3 linked regions of the Homo sapiens genome follow. The protein of the gene in region 3 interacts with the protein of the main gene of each other region in a biochemical or structural test. Each region holds a gene or a part of one and is shown on either strand. Other genes may lie near its edges. The genes, in order: CUL3, RAB9A and RHOBTB3.

Region 1 (8,465 bases), on a different chromosome or scaffold from region 3:
ATGCGATTGCTTTTTAAAAATGAAGGCAAATCACTGGTCTAATACTAATTTTTTAAATTACTTTAATAACATTTATATATCTAACAAATCACAAATGTTAATTTTCCCAATCTTGATTTATTAGAAATAAAGATTATAGGTGACAGAATTTTGAAAAGGGGCTCATGGCTTTGTATGCACTGAAATCAACTTACATTTTACTATTTTATGCAATATTTTCTCAAACCTAATTTTATGAATAAAATATGTAATTATCCTAATGTTTAGTCCTTAGGGAAGACTATACTGGTATAGTCTTCATATTTTCAAAGGTGCAGTTAGCAACTGAGAGAACAGAAGTAATAAATCAAAGCTAGGATTTTTAACCTTTCTAACATGTGAGACAGGCAGAGAAACAGAAGTAAGTAATTTACCCAGGTCAACATAAATCACACATCAGCTCTAATAGACTAACTTTAAGTTACTTAATACGTTCAAACTATCAATATTTACCTTTTTAACTGGTCCATAAAATGTGGCATTGAGATCTGCAGAACCCATATGATGCTGGAGTGTGAGCTGTCGACCACTGTGTTTGGCTAAGTAGAACCTTCAGTAAATCAAACCAGGTTTTAGAAAATCAAACAAACTTACACATTTGAAATTACAAACTACAGGATAACATCCCTTAAACATTTGTGTGTGTGTGTGTGTGTGTATGGACTTTAAAACTTAAAGGAAACTTTAGGAATCAAGTTCAGTTTCAACTTTCTATAGGCAAGACCTTGAGAGAGTCCTAAGTAACTCAGCTAGATATTAAATGACAAAGGCCCCACACTAAATAATTTCTACTGTACACTCTGCCCCAACCTACTGCTGCTCAGCCCTTGCTGTTCTTAAGACCACCTTTCTCCATAGTAACCCAATAATCAATTTGTTCTAAGTCAGTAGCAGACATCAACAGTACAAAATATACTCCTATACCACAGTACGAAAAATACTCAATGCACATTTATAAAATATTCCTCTGGGAAAAGTTTATGTAATTTTTTCTTACATATTAAAATTATAAAGGATAAACTCTCCCTTTGTTTTTGTTGTTCAAAACTGGTAGTTTTTCTTGAATTTTTATATTTATGTTTTTTGTCACTATCCACACCATATTTTTTCCAAAGCCTGAGCCACTCTGTGGTTCTTGCCCCAATATAACAATCATCCCTTCACTCTTAGAATTCCTTTTCCCTTGTCATTTTGCCTTTCTACAGTTTATAAAAAATGAGGACTTTGGGGAGGGAAAAAACCCAACATTTCTGTGAACTCGAGACTATAGGCAGTGCCTAAACCAGTAGGATCAGGCAAATAAAACTAGTTGGACAGCAGACATATCATGAACTCTTGCAACAGCGTGTTATCTGTGTGCATGTCTAAAGTGTTATACTGATTCACTATTACAATAAGGATCATGCAGTTGACCAGGGTGAAGCAGGACTGTCTACAGGATTATGTGAATTGTGGTGGTGGAGACAGTATACAAGATTAATGGATTAAAACCTAGCTGCTTTCCTGGAAAATGGCCTATGTTCTAAAAGACAAAATCTAGTTTTTATTTTTTTAATTTATGAAGCTACAAGTCAATAATATGCTAGTGCTTCTGGTTCAAAATGAAAGCAACTGGCTATGGTAATGTAGAGAAGACAGCAGGAATAGCACCAGAATGTTCGAGGCTTTTTAAGTTAAATTCTTAGTTACTTCACCTTACAAAGATACATGTCAATATGCTGAATACTCAACAAAGATCCAGGATATGGGCTATTTAAAAATACGTATCTCCTGGATCAGCACCAAAAATATCTTTAGTTTCTGTACAACCCACGTCAAGTTTTTAAGTGTAGGCAAGTCGAAATTATTTCTGATACAAATCACAAACTCCACAGAAATCATTCAAGATATATTCAAACAACTTTCAAATACATTTTGACATCAAGGTCAGGCAATTCACCTGGAAGAACATCTTAATAAGTACCAATGAATTTTTTGTAGTAAGATGTTTGATGTCAACCTTTTACTATGGGAATATTTTACATCTCACACAAAGAAGGCACTGGTACTTGGACACTTAAGACAATTACTAGAATCATTAAGACTAAGGTGAAGAATTTGTACAGTGCCTTCCACAATTTCAAAGAGGTCGTGACAGATACTTGTCCTCCTGGCAATATCAAATACAGTTTCTTCCCAGTTGTTTTTTCAGATCTGGTTTGAGGTTAACAGTTCACCAGTAGATGTTCTAGAGTAGCTCTGCTGTCTCTGATCCCAGCAGCAAGATGCAAGTGGGTCAAGAGACCTTTTGTTTGGTCACTGATAACTAATCTACACCATGCTGAAGAAATAAAGAAGCCACTCTGGTATTATTCCACTTATAAGCACCCTGCAGGGGTGTCCAGCTATCTACGGTCACTGCAAAAACTTCTGCCCCTTGTGCAATCAGCTCACAGACAATGTCTAAGTGTCCACCTTAGGCTGCTCGATGAAGGGGGTGATACACTCATCTTCATCCCTAGTGTTCACACGAGTGGTCTTTTCACAAAGCAGTCTCCACACTGGATAAGCCAATTATTTTCAGCAGCCCAAAAAAAATATTTGCTTGGATCTTTCTCTGTTTTTTTCTTGCATATCACTCTTGTTTTTTTTTCATCTTGCTCCTCTTCCTCATCAAAACTGCCATCTCAGAGACTCTGAGTACTAGTGGGAATAAGGTATCCACGTATTTCCAACAATTGGAGTTAGCTGAAGTGTTCAGAAAAGTCCAAGGAATTCTCTGGGTCTAGTTTTCCATCATCATTTACTTTCTCTTTTTCCATTTTTACTGCTGCTCTAAATAAAAGGCATTTCAAATGCCAGCATATAAACAATCTTTCTAGAGATAAATTATGCCTGCTTTACTTTACTCATCAAGATCCTATAGAGGGGGAAATTGCTGTATGCCAGGATAAATGCTCCTTTTGATCACGAGGTAATAAATGGAATACATTCATCCTCAATTACGGATACTAATGTTCAAATTCATTTTTAATTTTGAACACTTACTTGTACACAGTGATACAAAGTCTGATTTTGATTTACCTTCTGAATATCTCAAAAGCATGTCTTGGTGCTGGTGGGATGTTGCACTTTGGTGTGGCTGACTGAGTGGGCCAATATCCTGTCGTGAGCACCCGGACTGTAAGATCAACACCACCTAAAGATACCTATGTAAAACAGAAAGAGATATTCCCCTCAAAATTAACTAGGATTTGCTTTCTGTTCTGTTTAGACATTGTGTTAGATTTACCAAAGCAGTTAGCTCCATGTCTAATATCTAATTTAAAAAAAAGCAGATTTTCTTTTCTTTTTTTTTTTTTTTTTGAGACAGAGTTTCGCTCGTTGCCCAGGCCGGAATGCAATGGCACGATCTCGGCTCACTGCAACCTCCGCCTCCCAGGTTCAAACGATTCTCCTGCCTCAGCTTCCCGAGTAGCTGGGATTACAGGCATGCCCACCACGCCTGGCTGATTTTGTATTTTTAGTAGAGACGGGGTTTCTCCATGTTGGTCAGGCTGGTCTCGAACTCCTGACCTCAGATGATCTGCCCGTCTCAGCCTCCCAAAGTGCTGGGACTATAGGCGTGAGACATCGCACCCGGCAAAAAAACAGATTTCCTTAAAGGTTAGACCCACCCAGTGTTTCCCAAATTTTAACTACATGGCAAATAGCTTAATTATTGCTTATTATGTTAATTTAAAAACACTGACCAAAGAATAGTTTTTGGCACATAAATCAAGTCTTACTGTTATCACTGAGAACTGAAAAGTTTGGGCCTTTTTAAATAAAAGGTCAAGGAGGGTCAATTATATCATTTTAGAGAAAATTCTAGCATAATATCCTTCGTCTCAGTTTTAAAATATTTTTACTATCTTAATACATATTTCTAATATTCCAGCACCTATTTCAACTACAGTTAATTAAAACTTTTACGTTTTAGCATGTAGCTCACATTCTAACAACCTCTGCATACAGATCCAGTGCTATAACACTATAGATCCAGTGCTACAGAGCAGGTGCTCTACAAATATCTGTACAATGAATAACTACTTCTATGCTAGTATCAACTGTCACAATTATTTTCTTCCTTTAAACAAATTAAATTTTTAAGTAAACAACAATAAGGCACAACAAAAACTCTTAAAGATTAAATATTATTTCTATTATTGATATTCAGGATGTGTTATAAACCATCATTCCATTTTTATCTTACCTCAATGATTTAGTAATGTAAATTTTTAAGGGGAGGAATCAGTTTATGAATATCAAGAAGCATTCTACACTCCGATTTCTTCACAAGTATCCACTAAATGATTACTTAACTTTAAGGAAACTGAAAATAAACTTGGATGATGCACAGAAGAGAGGATCATAGAGGAGACTCTTAGATGGTGTACTGGGGGAGGTGGAGAACTGTTTATACATTCGCAAGTTGGTTAGGGGAAGGGAGGGTCACAAAGTGGACAGTCCATCCATCCCATATCAATATGCATGGGATCTAGCCCAATCTTCCCTATAGCTTTCAATGTGTAAGATTAGTGGAAGAAAAAAATTTAAAAACTTACTAGAGCAAACAAAAAAATACAAGAAAATATATCAATATATTAGATTTAACTATAAATTCCTAAACAATCTAAAAATAAAAATCCAGGATAATTACACCACTATTTCCTGTCCACCCGAAATTTCTGTCATGGACTTGCATCTTTCCTCCTCTCAGCTCTTCTCCACTGTAAACACTGATATTTATAAAGCAAATCATACAACTATTTACATTAGAGTCAGAATGTTTTCATAGAAATGAATGGTTATTCTACAGAATTACGTATTTTCACGTATCTGGTTTGCGAGACTATAAGGCCAGTAGAAGTGATGATCTCATATTTAGATACCAAAGGAAAAGACTCACAAATCTGTTAAATGGTTGTGACACATTTTAACCATAGAGTGGTACACGGTGATTTTAAAAATTTAAAAACTGTACAATTCTCTAAACTTAAGGTTAAGTTGAAAATCAGAGTAAAAAATGAAACTAAATTCTGAATTTCATTAAATGCTCATAAAACTCCCATCAGACTCCAAAGCTAAAGAAGTTCCAGCTCACCACCTTTGGGGAGTTATACCAAACACATTTATAATACATTAATTTCTGTGTTTTTATAGTCTCACTTCACCTGCTACGCACCCTTAGGATGTAAGTCCCATTTAAGCTAAACTTACAGAGGAGAATAATAGTAGTGAGGTATAGGAAGGTCAGGTGACTATCCCAAGATGACACAATCTTGGGGTAAAGTGAAAAGAAGAGTACTGAAACTCAGTAAACTTGTGTTAAGCCCAGTACTCTTTCCACAATTTATAATAGATTTGTATTATCTTTATTAACAACAGAATAATTCTCTTTATTAAATTGTCAGTGTATTCCTTCAAGTGGGAAGAAACAACTAAATTTTAAAAGAATAAAAAGTTTTAACATAAACACAGAATAAGAGGCAATGTGAAGGAAAATTAAGTACTCACAGATAAAACACATGTTGTCACTAATGACATTTAAAGAAACAACTGTCATCTGCTAAGTGGATGAAAATATACCCATTACAAAAGACTTTACATGAATATCTAAGTAGAAATTAACGCAGAATCTTACACCAGTTGCCTGTAGATGTTGCCTGAATTCATCCATCGTTGTGTTTGAGATGCTCATATCCCTAAACATTCCTTCCAGTTTTGACGTGAACTGACATCCACATTCAGTCTGTGGAGGAAAAACACAAATATACACAAATAAATGGTAGATGTTTCTATGAGAAAGTACAGAAAGAAATAAATTATTTCATGTTATTGCTATCCCTGATAATCTTCCTGTAAATTTTTCCAACAGTTGCTCTGTGCCTGTGGTTATCAAACTTTAGGATTTTAAAATGCAAATTCCCAGATTCTTTCAGAGATTCCAATATACCCCCATGAAAGGCAGGGCCCAGAACTGTTTTTAACTAGCATCTCAGGTGATTCACGTGCAAGTATTCTATGGACCACACTTTGTGAAAAAGAACTACACAGCATAGCCTCTTTATTGTTTCCCTTTTACTAATCCTCCCTTCCAGGCCTCCATGAATGTATCCTGACACACCAACAGAAATTCCAGCAAACTCTGAATGTCCCTGAACTTGAACAAATGTTAGTGTAGTCTGTGTTCTTCTCCAAAACAATCTACCTTTATTTCTAGAAATAAACACTTAATAATCTACCAAATTAATTTCCAATCACGTTGTCAGTACACAATCATAATAAACCTCAGTTAGGTGCACTCTATTTCATCTAAAACACACCTTACCTTTAACTTAGATATCATGTTTTTTTCAGAGTCATCAGAAACACTTTTATTTGTGAGAAGTCTCCTTGCCAAGTGTTGTTTATAATAACGTTCAAATACATCTTTTTCTTGCATAAACCTAAAAAGGACCATTGCTTTATCCAATATTGTTTCTACTTCTTGTTCTGTTAGCTGCAAAATTAAGATGATGTAACAATTATACAATTTTAGTTCTACAAAAGCAGTACTACGGTTCATTTACAGCTTAAAAACACTATTGTTTGAAAACATAGATATCTGGTTGACATACATCAAAAAAAGGGATACGGTTTGAGAAAGTGTCTCCTACTTCACACAGTAGCATCATTCTTACATTCTCATTTAGTGCATCATGAATGAGGGGTTGGAGTGGAATTCTATTCCGTAGAGGGCTACCACTGAATTGGAGGCATAAGGTAATATAGCGCTGGGTTAAGGGATGATTGAGAACAGATGAAATGAAATTTTAGTCACAGAGATTATTTTATGAAGCCTTTGCATATGCAGGCAAAAACTTACACAGCCAAAAGACGGAATTTTTCATTTAAGCTCACTGAAAGCCTCAACTGTGCAAACAAAAGGCAATAATTTGTTATAATCCAAACAGTAAAAAGGCCATTGCCCTTACTTTATTTTTTTATTTCTATTTTTTTTTTCTTTTGAGACGGAGTTTCACTCGTTGCCCAGGCTGGAGCGCAATGGCGCCATCTCGGCTCACCGCAACCTCTGCTTCCCGGGTTCAAGCAATTCTCCTGCCTCAGCCTCCCGAGTAGCTGGGATTAGACATGCACCACCACACCCGGCTAATTTTGTATTTTTAGTAGAGATGGGTTTCCTCCATATTGGTCAGGCTGGTCTTGAACTCCCAACCTCAGGTGATCCGCCGCCTTTGCCTCCCAAAGTGCTGGGATTACAAGCGTGAGCCACTGTGCCTGGCTGCCCTTACTTTTAAATAAGGGCAAAAGGATTCTGTGGCAGGTTGTATTAATATATTTGAAAAACGGAAGACCAAATGAATGCATAAATTAATAGACTTTTCTATTCTGTGCAACCTTAGTGATTTTGTTCCCTTATTGCAGCTACTGCCTGTAAAACCTGTGACGACATGTTGCTTTTCCCTTTGGTGTCACAAATTCCAAAATGAAGTCAAAAGAGACCAATTCAGATGTGAGCATGTTTTATGCTTCAGTTGATTTTCTATGCTGTCGTGAGCTCCTCAGGTTCCAGAGATATCATATATCACAAAGGCTTGAAATTGAGCTACACCAACCATTTTCTGAGATGAGATCTACTCTATCTATGCCTTAATATTCTTGGCATCCAATTATTGTTTGACATATAACCTTCAGAACCAGATGAGAGCAAACAACACTCTCTACTAGAAAGTTTTCTAGTTCTTTATCTTCAGCATGCCTAACTCTCAGTCATAAAAATGACTGTTTACCAACTACAGCTGTGTAGTTGTTCAGTTTTTTTTTTTTTTTTGAGACGGAGTTTCGCTATTGTTGCCCCAGCTGGAGTGCAGTGGCGTCATCTTGGCTCACTGCAACCTCCGCCTCCTGGGTTCAAGTGATTCTCCTGCCTCAGCCTCCTGAGTAGCTGGGATTACAGGCATCCACCACCATGCCCAGCTAATTTTGTATTTTTAGTAGAGATGGGGTTTCACCAAGTTGGTCAGGCTGGTCTCAAACTCCCAACCTCAGGTGGTCTGCCCACCTCGGCCTCCCAAAGTGCTGAGATTACAGGCATGAGCCACCATACCTGGACAGTTGTTCAGTTTTTTTGAGACAAGGTCTTGCTCTGTCGCCCAGCATAGAGTGCAGTCACGCGATCACAGCTCACTGCAGCCTTGAACTCCTGAGCTCAAGTGATCCTCTGCCTCAGCTTCTGGGACAACAGGTGTATACCACTGTGTGCCACTAATTTTTTTCTTTTTTCTTTTTTTTTGTAGAGATGGAGTCTCACTAAGTTAACAAGGCTAATTTCAAACTCCTGGCCTCAAGAGAGCCTCCTGTCTTGGCCTCCCCAAATGCTGGGATTATAGGCATGAGCCACC
Region 2 (8,465 bases), on a different chromosome or scaffold from region 3:
GGTGAAACTCCGTTTCTACTAAAAATACAAAAATTAGCCAGGCGTGGTGGCGGATGCCCGTAATCCCAGCTACTCAGGAGGCTGAGGCAGGAGAATCGCTTGAACCTGGGAGGCAGAGGTTGCAGTGAGCCGAGATCACGCCATTGCGCTCCAGCCTGGGCAACAGAATGAGACTCCATCTCAAAAAAAAAAAAAAAAAAAAAAAAAAAAGACCAAATAATTTCTGGTAGCAGAATCTGTTTTTTGTTGTAAGGCAAAAATGACAAAAAGAACTTTAGAGCTATTCAGAGCCATTAAAGTGGACTTAGAAAGTTTAGTTTCTGCATTATTTCAGTTGTCTGAGCAGCCTGTGGGGCACTGATACAAAGGTGCTGATGAGAAGGGCGGTGGGGAGTCCCAACCTTCCTGAAGCTTACAGTCCAATCACAGTCATAAGATTAGGTTCTGACATCATCCTAGAACAGAATTTATTGCCTGGGCTACTCAAGGACAGGGGCCAGGTGTTCATTAAAAAAAAGCAAAACAGGAAAAAAAAGCAAAACAGGCTGAGTGTGGTGGCTCATGCCTGTAATCTCAGCGCTTTGGGAGACCCACACAGGAGGATCACTTGAGCCCAGAAGTTTGAGACCAGCCTGGGCAACATAGTGAGACCCCCGTCTCTACAAAAAATAAATTAAAAAAAAAATTAGCCTAGCTCAGTGTGGTGGTGCATGTCCCAGCTACTCTGGAGGCTGAGGCAGAAGGACGACTTGAGCCCTGGAGTTCAAGGCTGCAGTGAGTCATGATCACACCACTGCATTCCAGCCTGGGCGATAGAGTGAGACCTTGTCGCTAAAAAAATAACAATAATTAAAGAAAACAACTCCACACTCGGCACAGAAGTACCTGTGTCATGGTGTTTACTGTGGGCAGACTTAAATAAAATGGGGAAAACTTGATGTGTGTGTTATAGTTTTGTACGGTTAACCACGTGTGAATATTTACAAGAATCAAATTGAGAAGCCATTCTTGTTGAGCATAAAATTCATCCTTAAATTTCACCTCACCAGACAAATAGTTATGCCTGCATTTTATCACTGGAATCGAGAAAGAAATGATGAATTTTTTAATGGCTTTTCCATAACTTTCTGGTGTTTTCTGGTCTCTTTTTCATGCCTGTCTAAGATCAGGCCTTTCAAAATATGTACTGCTTCATTCTGGTGGCAGTATTAACTGTTAGGTGAACTTTGGGAGGGAGTGGTTGACTGGAGCAGTCAAAAAGGATCGCATCTCTTTTTAGGCATCACTGAGTGTTATTCACGCAATCAACATGGCATCTTTTTGTCGGTAGCTTTGGTTTTTGACTCATGCCAATGCACAGCACGTTCTTTGCTGATGAATAGATTTCTCTGCCTCTTATCAGGAGTTGTCTGCTGTGGGGTAGGGAGGATGTTGAGTTACACACCTCAAAATGATTGCTAGTGCATACACATGGAATCTAACAAAAGTGACGTGTTTTATTCTGGGAAAGGTCGAGATAAATTGGTGCTAGAGTTGTCTTGTTTGATCATTAATTGGCTTGCTCCTCCAGCCAACTTAGGTCACCACATTTCCTTCTGGGTAAAATGAGATGGCTGTGCTTCATAATCTCTAGGAGATTATATGTCACAAAGTAGAGGCAGCAAATTATTAGCTTCCAAGTAGTTCTGCCCAGGCAATGTGTTAAGCAGCAGGAGGAGGAAGTAAGCCAAATGGAAGTGTGTGTGTGTTTGGGCAACGCATCTAACTTGAAAGGTGTATAGATAATAGACTCTTCAGTCAGAACCAAGCATAAGAGAATAGGATTTGTGACTAAGTAGGCCATCAACAGAGAACATTTATTAAGGACTTTTTTGTAGAGGAGTGAGGGTGAACTCAAAAAATGTTTCAGGGAGTTTGGTGGAAAGCTATGATGCAATTGGAAGGCGAGGATGCCTGAGGGAGGAGACGTGGAGCCACCTAGGTGTGTAGGCAGAGGGGAGGGAGGTCGGAGGCGGTCCCAGGCCGTGTTGCCAGAGAGCCCAGGGGTGCCAGGGCTAGTTAGATAACTTGGAGGAGAAATCTCTGTTTCTCACCATGACTCTTGGTACTGTGCATGTTGTGAAGCTGTGTGCTCTGGGTATTTCCACATTCTGGATTTTTCAAATCCTTTTGTTAATTTTTGACCATGGTGAGTTCAGGCGTTGTTATTATGTTGCTTATTATGAATACAGTGAGGATGACTAGGTGTAAATGAATGTAAGGTAACAGCTAGATCTGCCTGAGGTGGAGAGAGACTGGGTGTGTATTTTGGAAAAAAAATGGAGAAGTGAAACAGGCTGTTCAGGCTTCACATTCTGGCTGCATGGAAGCCAGCTCATTGCATTCTCCAGGAGTTCTCTGGGAGTCTGTGGACACAGACTCCACTTTTGTCTTAGGCCTGACTCGTACAAACATATTCTGTTGTTTGACAGGGGATGGAGAAACACTATAGAACAACTGGACACATTCATTTCATTGCCACATTCTTTATTCAAGTGTGACAGAGAGCAAAACAGTATAAAGGAGTTGAACTGACTACTGTATTTTAATTTCAAGTTCCTGTGAATTGGATTAGATTTTTGGGTACAGAAGCTAAGGTAATTTCCAAAAGGTTAGTGCCCATAAGACTGTCTATGTTCTCAGAGTTAGAAAAACCTGGGAAAAAAAAAAGCCTTACAGACCTCTGTTTCTACAACTTGCTGTGCAGAACTCTAACAGATAGGAGTGTTTATGCAGCTAGGTGACTGCTCTGGTCTGTGCAGTTTCACACCTGTGTATTTGATCAGATGTATATACCTGGAAATACATACATAATGTGGTTGGAAGTCAGATTAGAACTGCCTGAGGACTACCCATTGGTGAATGCAGAACATTCTTTGGAATGAGTGCTAGTATTCTTAAATAACATTTAAAAATAGTTGTTTGGGAGCAAACAGTTGCCACCCTCATAATCCACTTTAATTTGTGCCCAGTACTTGATTTTTATCACAGCAGTCCTGGAAAACCTAGCTTCATGAAGATATGATGTCATCGAAAGGAATGCAGTGCAATCTAATTAACTCCCCTCCAGTGGGGTGCCCTACAAATGTCAAGTATCTATGTTTCCCTCAGAAATTTAAAATAGCCCACCCTGCCCTTGTGAATTTGCCGTGATGCTTTGGGGCACCTCAGCATGCAGTTTGGGAACCTCAGGATTAGAAGTTGGTATTATTGGCTCTAGTTTATGGACTACAAGGTATAGTGGTGAGGAGAAAAGGCATCAAAGTCCGTTTTTAATTCTCCATCCCCCCTTCCAGTATCTGTAAGCTTTTCCCTTGGGCCCCTCATTTCCCCCAGAGCTTTGCAGTTTTGGGATGCTACCCTTTTAGTTGCTAAGCTGAGGGGAGGGACAGACAGGAAAGAGACTGCAGTTCAGGTTTCCTGTGCAAATCGTCCCTCCAGCTCCACTTTCCTTTGTGCTTTCTCTCCATTTTCTGCTGGGTGCAATTCCTTAGGAAGTGGGTCTGCTAGGGTAGCACAGGGATGTGGGTCATGGAATCTACAGCCTTTCAGGGACCCCTCGAGCCTCCGGACCCGGCCTGTCTGGAGAAGTCTCGAGAAGTGCCCGTGTGCTGTTCAGTTCTTTTCCAGTTCTCTGGTGGGAATCAGCTTTCTCATTGTTGGCTGCTGCTTTCCGCATTAGGTTTCATTGTCTCTTCACTCTGTCACTCCCGGACCATTTGCTTTCCACTTTCTAAATTTTGTTGCTGTCTTGCATCTACAGTTGTTCTTTCTTGGTGTCCTTTTTGGATTTGTACCTTACGTAGACCTTTTCTGTCACTGGGTGGGAGTGAAGATAACACATACTTGACCTGCCCTATTTAGTTAGACCTGGGGAAGTTTGTGGACTTCTGTTTATTGATCTATAAAACATGGATGATAGTGTCCAACTTGCAGGTAATTTTAAGGTGCTATATGCCAGGTACCTAGTAGATATTCAGTTAATAGTGGCTGCTAATATAATTACAGCCATAGCATTTATTATTTGAGCAAGCAAGGCAATAGCAATAGGTAGTGCGAAAAGTGGACATATTTCATGTGTGGCTGAATGAAGTGCGTAAGAGAAAAGAAAGAGATTTTCGAAATGGAGAAAATAATTAGCTCAGTTTTAGATATGTTGAATTTGAACTACCATCAGGGTACCAGATGAACATACTATACAAGGGGTTGCAAATTCTTGTCTGGCTCAGACATGCGGATGTAGACTTTAGGAATCACTGGTTTTTATAGCCCAGGGAGATACCATCTGGAAACAGGTAAGGGTTTCAGTCTCGTGAAATAGCTTCATGAAGAGCTTGTCAGGAAAGGGAGCTGTCTATGTTGAAGAAAGCTAAGGGGCCAAGGAGGAGAGAAAGCAGAACCTATTATCAGAGTGGTTTTATGGACAATTAGGAAACATTTTCAAGAGGATTACTGCCAGGCTGTTTGGACCTGATAGAAGCAGTAATGGGTGGTAAGTCCTGGCTCAGACTTGAAGGTCTCCCCTGTGCCTCTAGCTAGATGTGTGATCCTGTGTAAGACACTTTCCCAGTTAGACCTGTTTCCTTATTTGTTTTTAAAAAACACTTGAGGCCAGGCACGGTGGCTCACACCTGTAATCCTAGCACTTTGGGAGGCCAAGGAGGGAGGCTTGCTTGAGCCCAGGAGTTCAAGACCAGCCTGGGCAAGATGGTGAAACCTTGTCATTACAAAAAAAAAAAAAAAATTAAAAAAAAAATTAGCCAGTCTTGGTGGTATGCACCTGTAGTCCCAGCTACTCTGGAGGCTGAAATGGGAGGATCACTTGAGCCCGGGAGTTTGAGGCTGCAGTGAGCTATGATCATGCCACTGCCCTCCAGCCTGGGTGGTAGAGAAAGACTCTGTCTTTTAAAAAAAGAAAAAAGACTTGGGTACCCTTCCAAGATTTTAGTTCATGCACATTCAGACAGATGGCTACACCTGAGAGAATTCACTATATACTAGCTGGGCCTCAGGTGGAGATGCTGGTCAAACTTGCAGGTGTTTTCTAGAAACATACACAATGAAGTCCTGAGAGAAGAACTTTTCCCTGTATTCACCTTAGGGTTGTATGTGCCGTAGGGCATTCAGATGAGGACTGAGAAAAAGCCATTGGATTGGCCATTAGGAGGTCTTTGGTGACTTTTGCTGACAATCAGGGGGAAAGGATGGGGTGGGAGCCCTGGTGTCCTATAAACTGAGCAGAGAGTTAATCAGGTTTGCAGGCACATTGAGAAATGGGTAGTGATGGGCAGAGTGAGGTTGGGCTTGGAAAGCTTTTTGTGAGAAAAGTCAGTTTCAACACTTCGATAGGGGCAGACCTGGGGGGATCATTGACAAAGTGACAGTTACATTGGATAAACTGAACTTGATGAAGAGCTGCCTGCAGTGTTGAGCTGGTGACAACTTCCCTGCAGAGTGGTATTTGGGAGCCTCTAGTCTAGTCGAGTCCTATATACCGGACATAGCTGCCCCTCTTTAAATATATCTTCTTAGGAAATCCTCACTCCTTGTAATTAACTTCTCTAACAGTCGAGAAGTTTCCTTTTGCTGTGGCTCCATGCCTTGTGGAGCCCCTCACTCAGTGAGTTTGTATAGTTCCCCAACCCCTAGCTTTGTCTGCTGTAAATTAAAGACATTTGGTTTCTTATCGAACTGGAAGGGAGGCCTCAGAACCAATGTTTCTTTAGGTGATAGCAGAACGTTGCAGATCATTTTTGATTTGTGTTTTGCTGCTTTAATATATTTTTCTGACATATATGTTCAAATTCATTCCTTTCATAATTTGTTTTTCTTCCTGAAATATCTACCTTTAATTCCCCATGTTCTCATCTTGTGACTTTTATCTATGTCTTTGCATTTTAATTCTGTCTTCCAAAGTGCACTCTATTGTCAAAAAGTATTGTAAGTACCTTTTACAGGTAAGTGTCATCGCAGGTAGATTTATGCTTGGTTCTTAAAACTTAAGCAAAACAAAAAAAAATTATTCTCACTTCTCAGGACTAGCAGTTTCCCATGAGTAAGGCTGTTCACTGAACTATCACAGTTTATGGTCAAAGTGTGATATTCATAAAAGTCTCATGGGTGAGGGAGAAAAAGAGGAAATTCTGCTAAAGACAGAAACTCTTGAAGGGTGTTATGAGCTACAGAAATGGATCACACATAACATACAAATGATGCAGGCATGTAGCAATCAGTTCTTGGTGTCCAAACTCCTTAAGATCTGATGAAACATTTTTTGTTCTTTCCAGAAAAAAAGCGCAAGCACACAAGCTTCCACCAATGCTCTCATCCTTATTTCACATGTGATTCTAGGGAGTGTATTTTCTCCCTGAAGCTCATTTCATGGACTCCCAATTAACCACACTCTAGGCCTGCACTGTCCAACACAGTTCCCACTAGCCTCATGTAGCAATTTAAACTAGTTAAAATTAAATGAAAAATTCAGTTCTTCAGTTAGACCAGCTACTTTCCAGTGCTCAGTAGCCACATGTGATTAGTGGCTACCATATTGGACAGTGCAGATTATAGAACATTGTCGTCATTGCAGAAGGGTCTGTTGGATTTTGCTGCACTATATAGTTTCATGATGGTTTAAGATTTAGTTCCTTAACTAAGTCTTCTTTTTCTTTTTTTTCTTTTTTTTTTTTTTTTTTTTTTTGGCCCTTCTCACTTCCTCCTTTCCCACTCCCCCCACCACTGTTAGTGATTAGTTAACATACCTACAGAGGTGCCTTGTTTTAAGAAAAATGTTAACATATTTCTTAAAAGTTAAGTTAGCTGATTCAGCTTCAAAAAAAGTTACTTAATTGAAATAAGTTCTTTCAATAGGGGAGGTGCTCTGACATAGCGATAGTATGGTTTGATAATACAGTTTTTCTCCTCTAGCTGCCTCCTGTTCTTGAGGTAATGCTCAGTGATTAACTAGATAGGACTAGATAATTTATTTCACCTTGGCAGGTCTTGCCTCCAAGTTGGCCTATTCCTATGGTATTTCCTTTTCTTTCTTTTGCTTCTTCCTGCACACTAAGTATGGTATTTTCTGACAGTATTTTTCTTAATTCTTTATTTATTTTTCTTGGTAATTTCTTGCTGTAGAGCTGGTACCCATTAGACATAATGACTTTCCTTGACTTGCTTCTTGCTCATAAATTTCTGTAAGACAATCAGGAAGTTTTTAGAAACAAACAGTGGAACCAATTAGGCTGTTAAGTGAGACACGCCTAAATTAAGCTATGAGGAAATAAATACAGCTCCAGCAAAAATAGAAATAATTTTCAGATTATCCATGCTTTTGTTTCCCTGGTTTTCTTTGAACCTCATTTCCTCAAGCTATGAAGTGAAATGAAGTGGTAAGTACACCTCTAAGTAGGACATTCAGGGTGAATCCAAAGGAACTTGTGAATTTGACCAAAAAAAAAAAAAAAATCTGTTCCTAAATTTAAACCAGGAGTGATAAATTCATTTTAAGTTTTTGGAGGGGTTACAGAGTATGTGTTTTAAAATCTCAAGTTTTGAGAAGGCAGTTTACAAATGATGCCTGCTCTCCCTTTGGCAGCTTATTAAGGAATGTAGTCGTTTTTCAGCATTTGCCAGCTCCCTGTCGCAGTCAGTCAATAGTACTTATTTTAAAGTGGGATTCTCATTGGGATTGCAAGTAAGAATCAATGTTTTTGTTCCTACCCACACATTTTAATAGACCTCAAAAATAGAATGCGGGGAGAACTGATAGAGAAACAAAGAATTTTAGGTACAGAAAGCACAAATAGAATAATAATAGAATAACAAGAATAAAAGAGGAAGTAATATACTCTTCGTTCTCAATGTAGCATTTATTTGCACCTCACCAAATGTAGAGCATTGTACGAGAAGTGGCAGAACAAAAAAGGGACAAGTGAATGGATGCAATTAGGTGTTGTGTGTCCCTCCCAGGGAGTTGACATTGTAATTAGGAAACAGACACATACACAACTGAAGGTGATTAGAGCATAAGTAAATGAGAGCTGTAAAGAGGTGGAAATGATGAGAGCAAAGAAAAGAGAAAGATTAGGTTGCTGGGGCGGTCCTGGCTTCCTACATGAGGTAATCTGGACTAGGCTTCTGATGACTAAGATTGTCATAGCTGTCGAAGTAGGGAGGGGCCTCCCAGGCCAAAGTAACAGCCCGAGCAAAGATATGGACAGAAAATGCCAGTGATAGGTGCGGGGATGGTGAGTAGTAGGGATATAATTGGGACAGGCTTGTAACTGACATTGAATAGCTCTTTGAATGCCATGCTCAAAATCCTGTATAATAAAAATAATAAATAAATGAATTTAGTTATCTGTCAGAATGGAGACAATTAGATCCAGGACCAATAAAAAAAGTCTAACTTCAGTCACATACACAGT
Region 3 (7,991 bases):
TCATGAGTTTAGTAGGCTTTACTGAAAATTTGGGAACCTGCTGGGGAGGGACTGCATCATTCCATGCACCATCCATTCTCATGGTATGGCTGCCTTGTCTCTTTCCCCTCCCTACCTGGGCTCCTCAGCCCTGGGAAGTTCCAAATTCTTTTCCATCTATTATCAGAGCAGCTTCTCCACTTCCCAAGCCTTGGTCCCAGACAACACTCAAGCCTACAAGGGGCTCACTTCTATGTTTAATTATCAAAGCATTTTTCTAAATAAAGGCAGTTATTTTGCTGAGATAAATTCTGGTCTTGACTTTTAAAGATAATATAAATTTCTTTATCTCACCACACATATTAGTCAGCTATAGTATCAGCAACATTCTAGATATTTTACACATAATGAAAATTATCTATGAAGCATAATTATGCTTGAGAAATACAAGGCAGCATTCTCCAAATCATTTCAGTATTTCAACATCCAAGGTAAAATAATTACAGGACACTTCGTTAAACTTGTTTTAAAAAAGGTTTATTTGTTACAAAAAGTTAAATACTAAAGCTAAAAACATATAAATTCAGGTCAGGCTATATTAAAATACACACATACCCTTCTTTGCAAAATTATTAAAGGTTGAATTAAACAGATGCTTTAAATAAAATAAAGTACTCTTTGAGGACATTTTTGTCAGATTAACTATAACAGTGTAGTGTAGTTTTTAAAATTGCAGTTGAAAAGTTTAGCTGTCTTGGAAGTCAAATTTATCCAATTGTTCAGACTTCTGTTACTACTTAATATGAAGCCACCATGCTGGCTTGGACAGAATTAATTTCATTCATGTTATGGAGAATTCTATATTACAAATCTGGTCCCCTATAATATGAACAGTGAGCAGTCAGAAATATACAAAGGGTTAAATAGGGTAAAGACTTTGGCCAAGAAAGGAAAGGCCTTAGTTCTACCATAGAGTATCTTCTCTAATTAAAATGACTGGGAAATATATGGAAGCAGAAACCAGCACAAAGCACTACCCATCTAGAAATAATCTTTCAGTTAAAAAACAACTCTCAAAACCAGCACTCATTTCTCTAAGATAGGTTATAAGTATTTTACGATTTCTTGTTATATTAAATTGAGTTAAAGGTACTGACAAGTCAATATGCAAATGGGTTTAAACACTAATTTGATTTCTCTTCTGACTAGCTCTGGAGAGCTGTGACATCTGGATGTTGGTGTCACTCACACAGGTAGGTGGTAGAGAACTTTCATAACAAAACTACACACTCCACACCAACTGGGCACCAGCTTCCAAACCCAACTCCACTTCAGGTCAAACAACCTTAAGGAACTACCTATAGTCTAGTTAAACATTAAATAGTATTTTCAAGAAAATACCTTTTTTTGCTTTGCAACTTAATATTTTTCAATTTCCTAGATTAAAAGTTACTGATTTTGAACTTTAAATGCTGTAATTCATATAGGGGTGCGAATATGCTCATGAAAAACAAAAGGCTATTATTCCATTTTAGAAGTCTTAAATGTGAATGAATTTCTAGAAATCTACCACAGTATCTGTTTTTTACAATGCTAATCTTTGTCAAATGGGATTTGCCAGTGGTTGATTAACTCAAGTGATTAAAATACAAAAGACATAAAATCGATTCCAGTAATCATCAATGATACAGCCTAATTAAAATCAGCCCAATTAAAATATTTCCTGGAATATATCTATAGGGAATTTTTAGTGTTTCACTTTGGTTTTTTTTTTTTTTTTGAGATGGAGTTTCGCTCTTGTCACCCAGGCTGGAGTGCAGTGGTGCGATCTCGGCTCACTGCAACTTCCACCTCCCAGGTTCAAGCGATTTTCCTGCCTCAGCTTCCTGAGTAGCTGGGATTACAGGTGTGCGCCACCACATCTGGCTAATTTTGTATTTTTAGTAGAGACGGGGTTTCACTGTTTTGGCCAGGCTGGTTTCGAACTCATGACCTCAAGTTATCCACTTGCCTCAGCCTCCCAAAATGCTGGGATTACAGGCCTGAGCCACCATGCCTGACCTAATGTTTTACTTTGGCAGTGTTGGTATACATACAAGGGCTAACGGTATGGGGTCCCAATATTATACTATAAAACCATTTAATCAAATTTTTGAAAAGTCGGAAAAACTGTGTGTATTCTAAAGTCACTGGAAATTAAAAGAAAAATATATTCCAGTAGTGACTTACAGATGAAAATGATGCTGACAATAGACAGTAATCTGTTTTTCCATGTCTAGGTTTGTGAGTTTCTGATATAATTATTTCTCTATACATGTGATATGAAAGAAAGAAACTATCAGTCTGTCCTCTATCCCAGTCCATTTTCCCTCTATGTAACAAGTCTTTGACTTACATCCTTTCTTTGAACTTACTGTGTAATATTAGAGCACAAGATTCATGCTACTCTTTATCAAATAATCTTGCAGTCCTTGAAAAGAATTCAAAGAATTTAAGCCACTGACGTCCTAATCTTGGTAAATAACACTAAAAACAAATTCTTGAGCCAACTTCGGTAGCAAATTCTCTACAGAGCATCTTTCTCTGTGAACATCTTTATACATGTGTATTAAAGTTAGGCTGGTTAGTCACTCTTACCAACCTCCTGGTCTTACAGAATGATCAAGAAAGTATTTGTTCATCTATGATAGAGCAAGAACTGTGACTGTTTTAAAGCTAAGACAACACAACACATTTCTCCCTTGCCAGCCAAGGTGGCAGTGGAGGCCCTGGGTGGTCCAGACCTCCCCAAAGGCGGGAATCTTCACTATGTTCTCTTCCCTCCGGTGAGCCTCCTTCTCTTCCCTTTATATCAGTGCCTTTTTCTGCTTTCAGAGAGAAAGGTGTTTGAGCAAGAAAACATAGGATATTTCCCACCACGAAACAGACATAATTTTGAGGGCTCAGCACAAAATGAAATCATGGGGCCCTTCTTCAAACATTATTAAGAATTTCCGCTATAGCAGAGCCTTGAACCAAGTGTGGGGTCCTTCTAAGTGTGGGCCCTGTGCTGCTACACAAGTTACACGCTAAGAAAGCCAGCCCTGCCTAGGTTCCCCGCCTACTCAGATTGCCAAAAGGAGATAAAGTGGCTCAATTGGGTTGTCCAGATGAAAAGCAGGTATTTTTTTTATGATGATTCAAACACTGTCATCAATTGAGAACTAAGTGGCATTTCACTTTCCAAATGGCCGGCAAATTTCTATTCCTAAAATCTCATGTTGGACTGATTGGTTTTCCCCTAGATTTCTCATTATACAAATGGTTATGCTGGGTCTTTAAATGCCCCTTATTTTAATAGAGCAATTAATCAGACATGATTAAATTTCTGTATTAATCCTACGTAATTTTTTTTTTTTAATCTAAGCATTTCTTAACTGAGAGGGGTCTAAATATCACTAAAGCAACAGGACATCTTTAAGGGAAAACAGCTGCAAAACAGCTTTGCATTCTAGAGTGAAAGCCTTAGTTTTAGCCTATGGTATATTTTGTTCCCTTTTAAGACCACAGTGGTAGTTTTTTTCCAAAGAGAACTAATAAACATATTAAGCTATATGGTAATTTTTCTAACACCCACATTGGTTTCGGTCAGAAGAATTTTACTGGAACCTGGAGGTATCCCATTCTTCATAATAATAAAAAAGAAATGTAGTGTATAAAAGCTCCAGGTTACATTACTAAGCAACGACATTTCCGGGAGTGAATATACTTCCTGTATTCCGCAAGCTGCTTCAAGTACATATTCGACGGCCATCTGTGCTTTTCAACAAAACTGCGTTCTTCCACTGAAGTTTTAAGAAAAAGACTGTTAACCGAATATGTTTTATTATGGATCAATTAAGATATCAGCTATTGATTTCCTCTTTAATAGATGAGATCCAGCTCTGTGATACATCTCCTACCATTCCCACAAGTTTTCCCAAATAATTTACTACCATTTTGGTTAAATTAGTATCAGGATTTAAGTTATTATGTGACTTACAATTATATATATCTTGTCCACTACTTCGAGTAGTATTTCATTATTTTCCTTTTCTTTTTTTTTTTTTTTTGAGATGGAGTCTCATTCTGTCGCCCAGGCTGGAGTGCAGTGGCGTGATCTCAGCTCACTGCAACCTCTGCCTCCCCAGTTCAAGCAATTCTCCTGCCTCAGCCTCCCGAGTAGTTGGGACTACAGGCGTGTGACACCACGCCCAGCTAATTTTTTGTATTTTTAGTAGAGACGGGGTTTTACCTTGTTGGCCAGGATGGTCTCGATCTCCTGACCTCGTGATCTGCCTGCCTTGGACTCCCAAAGTGCTAGGATTACAGGCATGAGCCACCACGCCTGGCTTCCTTTTCTTTTCCAATAAAGCTTTTGTTTTTCCTGGATATAACGGACTTATTTTTTTTTTCCATTTATAATACTTAGTTTTCTTTTCTTTTCTTTTCTTTTCTTTTCTTTTTTTTTTTTTTCTGAGACGGAGTCTTGCTCTGTCGCCCAGGCTGGAGCGCAGTGGCGCAATCTGGACTCACTGCAAGCTCTGCCTTCCGGGTTCACGCCATTCTCCTGCCTCAGCCTCCCGAGTAGCTGGGACTACAGGCGCCTGTCACCACGCCCGGATAAGTTTTTTTGGTATAATACTTAGTTTTCTTTGTAGCTAACTTAGTCTTCCAAAGTCCTTCAAGTCCTCTCAGTTGTGCTTCCCACCCAGCCAGTCATCAGATAAGCTGTTCTTCCCTGTTGCTGCTGCCCTGCCTGCTTTCTGGACCTGCTTCCTGCCTTGGAGTTGGATCCCTCCATTCTTGAACTCCAGGTCCTTCGCTTTGTTCATTCTCTAGGTTTGGTGAAGCACAACTGTCAGAGGCATTTGAACTAGAGCAACTGCATCTTGAATAGGGGCTGGGGACAATGAGGCTGAAACCTACTGGGCTGCATTCCCAGACAGTTAGGCATTCTAGGTTACAGAATGAGATAGGAGGTCGACTCAAGATATAGATCATAAAGACCTTGCTGGAGGCCAGGCACGATGGCTCATGTCTGTAATCCCACCACTTTGGGAGGCCGAGGCGGGCGGATTATTTGAGGTCAGGAGTTTGACACCAGCCTGGCCAACATGGCAAAACCCCGTCTCTACTAAAAAAAAAAAAGAAAAGAAAAGAAAAATTAGCTGGGTGTGGCGGCACATGCCTATAATCCCAGCTACTGAGGAGGATGAGGCAGGAGAATTACTTGATTCTCCATCTACTGTTTAACCTCATCTATTATAAGTCAGATTAACAGGGTCTTGATTCAGCCTGCAGGACCATACAAACTAGCTGCTCAGCTCTAAGTTTCAAGAGGAAGCAAAGGTGACATGAGACTACTCCCTCAGTAAATATTAAAAACCAGAGAAAAGTTATTAGAGATGAGCTCTGGCAGCCAGCAAAACAAAACAAACAAAACCCCATAACACAGAACACATAATATCGAGCTAAATTAAACTGCGAGAATAATGAATCCATAAATGCCAAGGGTAACATATTCCTGTGCACCGCTGTTTGTGTTCATGAGTCCAGTATATAAAAATCTAATACTTAATGACCTATTTAACTGGGTTCTGATGTATCTGTGCCTGTACTGACATGACATCTTTTCCAGTCTCACTTTTTGATTTCTAAACACCTCTAAAAATGAAAAATTCTCAGTCAACAGAAAACAAGTTGTAGAATTCCAATAATAATTTGAGAACTTTTCAAGCTGAAGATGGACAGTTCTATAAGGAAGCTGTAGAGTGACCGTGACAAGAAACTTTCCCAACTTCAGGTGACCATGTGCAGTGGGCCAGGTGTAAAGCACTGGAGAGAAGTGACTGCGACCCTCTGGAGAGGGCATGCTCCTTTAGGTGGGCCGTCAGCGCCAAGCCACATGTTGCCACTAGGATGATGGGCCTGGGGTAGCCAGATCTTCCAATTTTTCAAAAGAAGCCAAAATATGGTTATTTTTAAATACCAGTACTATATATTTTTAACTGTGGGGTCCCAATAAAACACGTTGGCAGGCTACACCTAAACCATAGATGGCCAGTTAGTAACTATTGATTTAGACAATTAAATTCTCCCTTATCCAAAAGGCGCTTTTTTCCTCTGCCCAAGAGGATGACACCTCATAGCAGGACCCTGGACAGGAAGAGGCACTGCAGAATGAGAGTTCTCATGATTCCCTTTTAATTCCCATCAAAGGAACAGAAGGCAACATCGACACATCGTTTCCTCCTTAGCCTGCCACCTCACATCGCACTGGAAGTCCTGCTTTGCACCATGCCAGGTGTCATAACATACTTTATAGGTAATTGGGTAATACCATATAATGAAAATTCATAACTAAAAGGATTTATAGACCATCCTTCTCCCAAGGTTGTAATAGTACTCCATATATACCATATATCTATACAAGATAGTAAGTAGAAAATAATCTTATTCTTCTCTTACAAATAAGAGTGACCTCAGGTAACATAATGAAACTGGCTCCAGGACCAAAGTGCAATTCATTTAACTTTTAGCAAGCTTCTTAAATAACTATAGAAGCAGCTACTTAAATAACTATAGAAGAATGTTCCTTCTGACAGCAAGCATACACAAGCCTTATCTTTATGAACTGACTGTTTTTTCCTTGCACAAAGTACATAGCTAATAAATAACTGTTGTTTTGTTTTGATGTGATTATGCTTCTCTACTGTACTAATAGTTGACTTATATAAGGAGGCTCCTAATAGACATATAATGTTTGTTGACTGGCTGAATACATCTCCCAAAAACGGATTGTGTGTTCCTGGGTTTTCTTTAACTGCACAAGTAGCTGAATAAAAACAAGAGATTTTTACTCTTTTTTCTTTTAGAGACAGAAGTCTCGTTATGTTGCTCAGGCTGGACTCAAACTCCTGGGTTCAAGTGATCCTTCAGCCTCAGCCTCCCAAGTTGGCTGGGATTACACCGAGGTGGAATCACCATCTTGACCATATGATTTTTATATCTTTTACCAGCAGAGTCTTTTTTACGAAGTAAAATTTTAGGTAGAACTCAAGATATGAAACAGATAAAGTGGAACTACTATGACTGAAGGAGGGAGGGAAGAGTCCAAGAACTGTAAATTTTAGCCTTCTCTTTCCCTTTCCCTTACTCCCTCTCTCTCTCCTTCTCCTCACCCACTCCCTACTTTCTGTCCCCCACCCTAGAAGACACTTCAGTTATCTCCACGGAGATTTATTTGTCCAGATTGTGAAACTCCTTGATCAGGTAATCTTTCACTTCCTTTTCTTTTTAGCTCAAATTTTCCTTGAGTCTATGCTAGATAATAACATGAGCAAACCACTGCATCTAAACTGTCTATTCTGACAACTATTATATTTTCATTTTTTTCTTTTTATGCAGTACTCAGTAGTTCACACTTTGGTTTTAATTTTTATAATTTACCTTAGAAAGCATATTACATACACTCCCAGTAAGTTTCACAACATTTTTTATATATGAAAAACTGTTATTCCAAAGTAATATAAGGGACTCCCATATAGGTATACTCAGTAAATACAGATATCCAGTACAATAAAGCTAAATATAATATAGTTAACAAGAGTTAAATTCCTTTATAAAAAATTTTTAAATCTGTACTGTTTAAACTTTGCTGCTGACTTAGGTAGTTAGAACTAAGATATCACTTTTCACAACCAAATGTCACCTGAGGACACATTTTGTCACCTTATCTATTTCAGGGAAAGAAAATGCATTTAAAAACGGATGGAGCTATAAAATAATCATTAGAAAACTTCTTGTGTAACACAGGTTAAGGCACTTATGTAACACAGGTGACTATAAATTGTTTCCTCAATTACCACACTGCATAATTTACAAGAAATTTATTACATTGACTATTCTTATTTTGCTAAAAGTACTACTTCTACAACTTATGTCTCAAATCTAAGAACAAAGAACATAAAGTTTTCTTTTCAAAACAGAAA

What was found.
Region 1: the proteins of RHOBTB3 (region 3) and CUL3 form a complex in vitro, tested with the Homo sapiens proteins (one study listed by BioGRID).
Region 2: the proteins of RHOBTB3 (region 3) and RAB9A form a complex in vitro, tested with the Homo sapiens proteins (one study listed by BioGRID).

Annotation. Positions count from the first base shown.
Region 1 is NC_000002.12:224,497,261-224,505,725, forward strand, and holds part of CUL3 (cullin-3), read right to left. Parts: intron 6,563-8,465; coding exon 6,392-6,562; intron 5,813-6,391; coding exon 5,705-5,812; intron 3,228-5,704; coding exon 3,103-3,227; intron 2,958-3,102; exon of another isoform or gene 1,920-2,957; intron 590-1,919; coding exon 493-589; intron 1-492. UniProt on the Homo sapiens protein: Core component of multiple cullin-RING-based BCR (BTB-CUL3-RBX1) E3 ubiquitin-protein ligase complexes which mediate the ubiquitination and subsequent proteasomal degradation of target proteins.
Region 2 is NC_000023.11:13,691,478-13,699,942, forward strand, and holds part of RAB9A (ras-related protein Rab-9A), read left to right. Parts: intron 1-8,465. UniProt on the Homo sapiens protein: The small GTPases Rab are key regulators of intracellular membrane trafficking, from the formation of transport vesicles to their fusion with membranes.
Region 3 is NC_000005.10:95,788,871-95,796,861, reverse strand, and holds the end of RHOBTB3 (rho-related BTB domain-containing protein 3), read right to left. Parts: intron 3,804-7,991; coding exon 3,688-3,803; 3' UTR 501-3,687; downstream 1-500. UniProt on the Homo sapiens protein: Rab9-regulated ATPase required for endosome to Golgi transport. Involved in transport vesicle docking at the Golgi complex, possibly by participating in release M6PRBP1/TIP47 from vesicles to permit their efficient docking and fusion at the Golgi.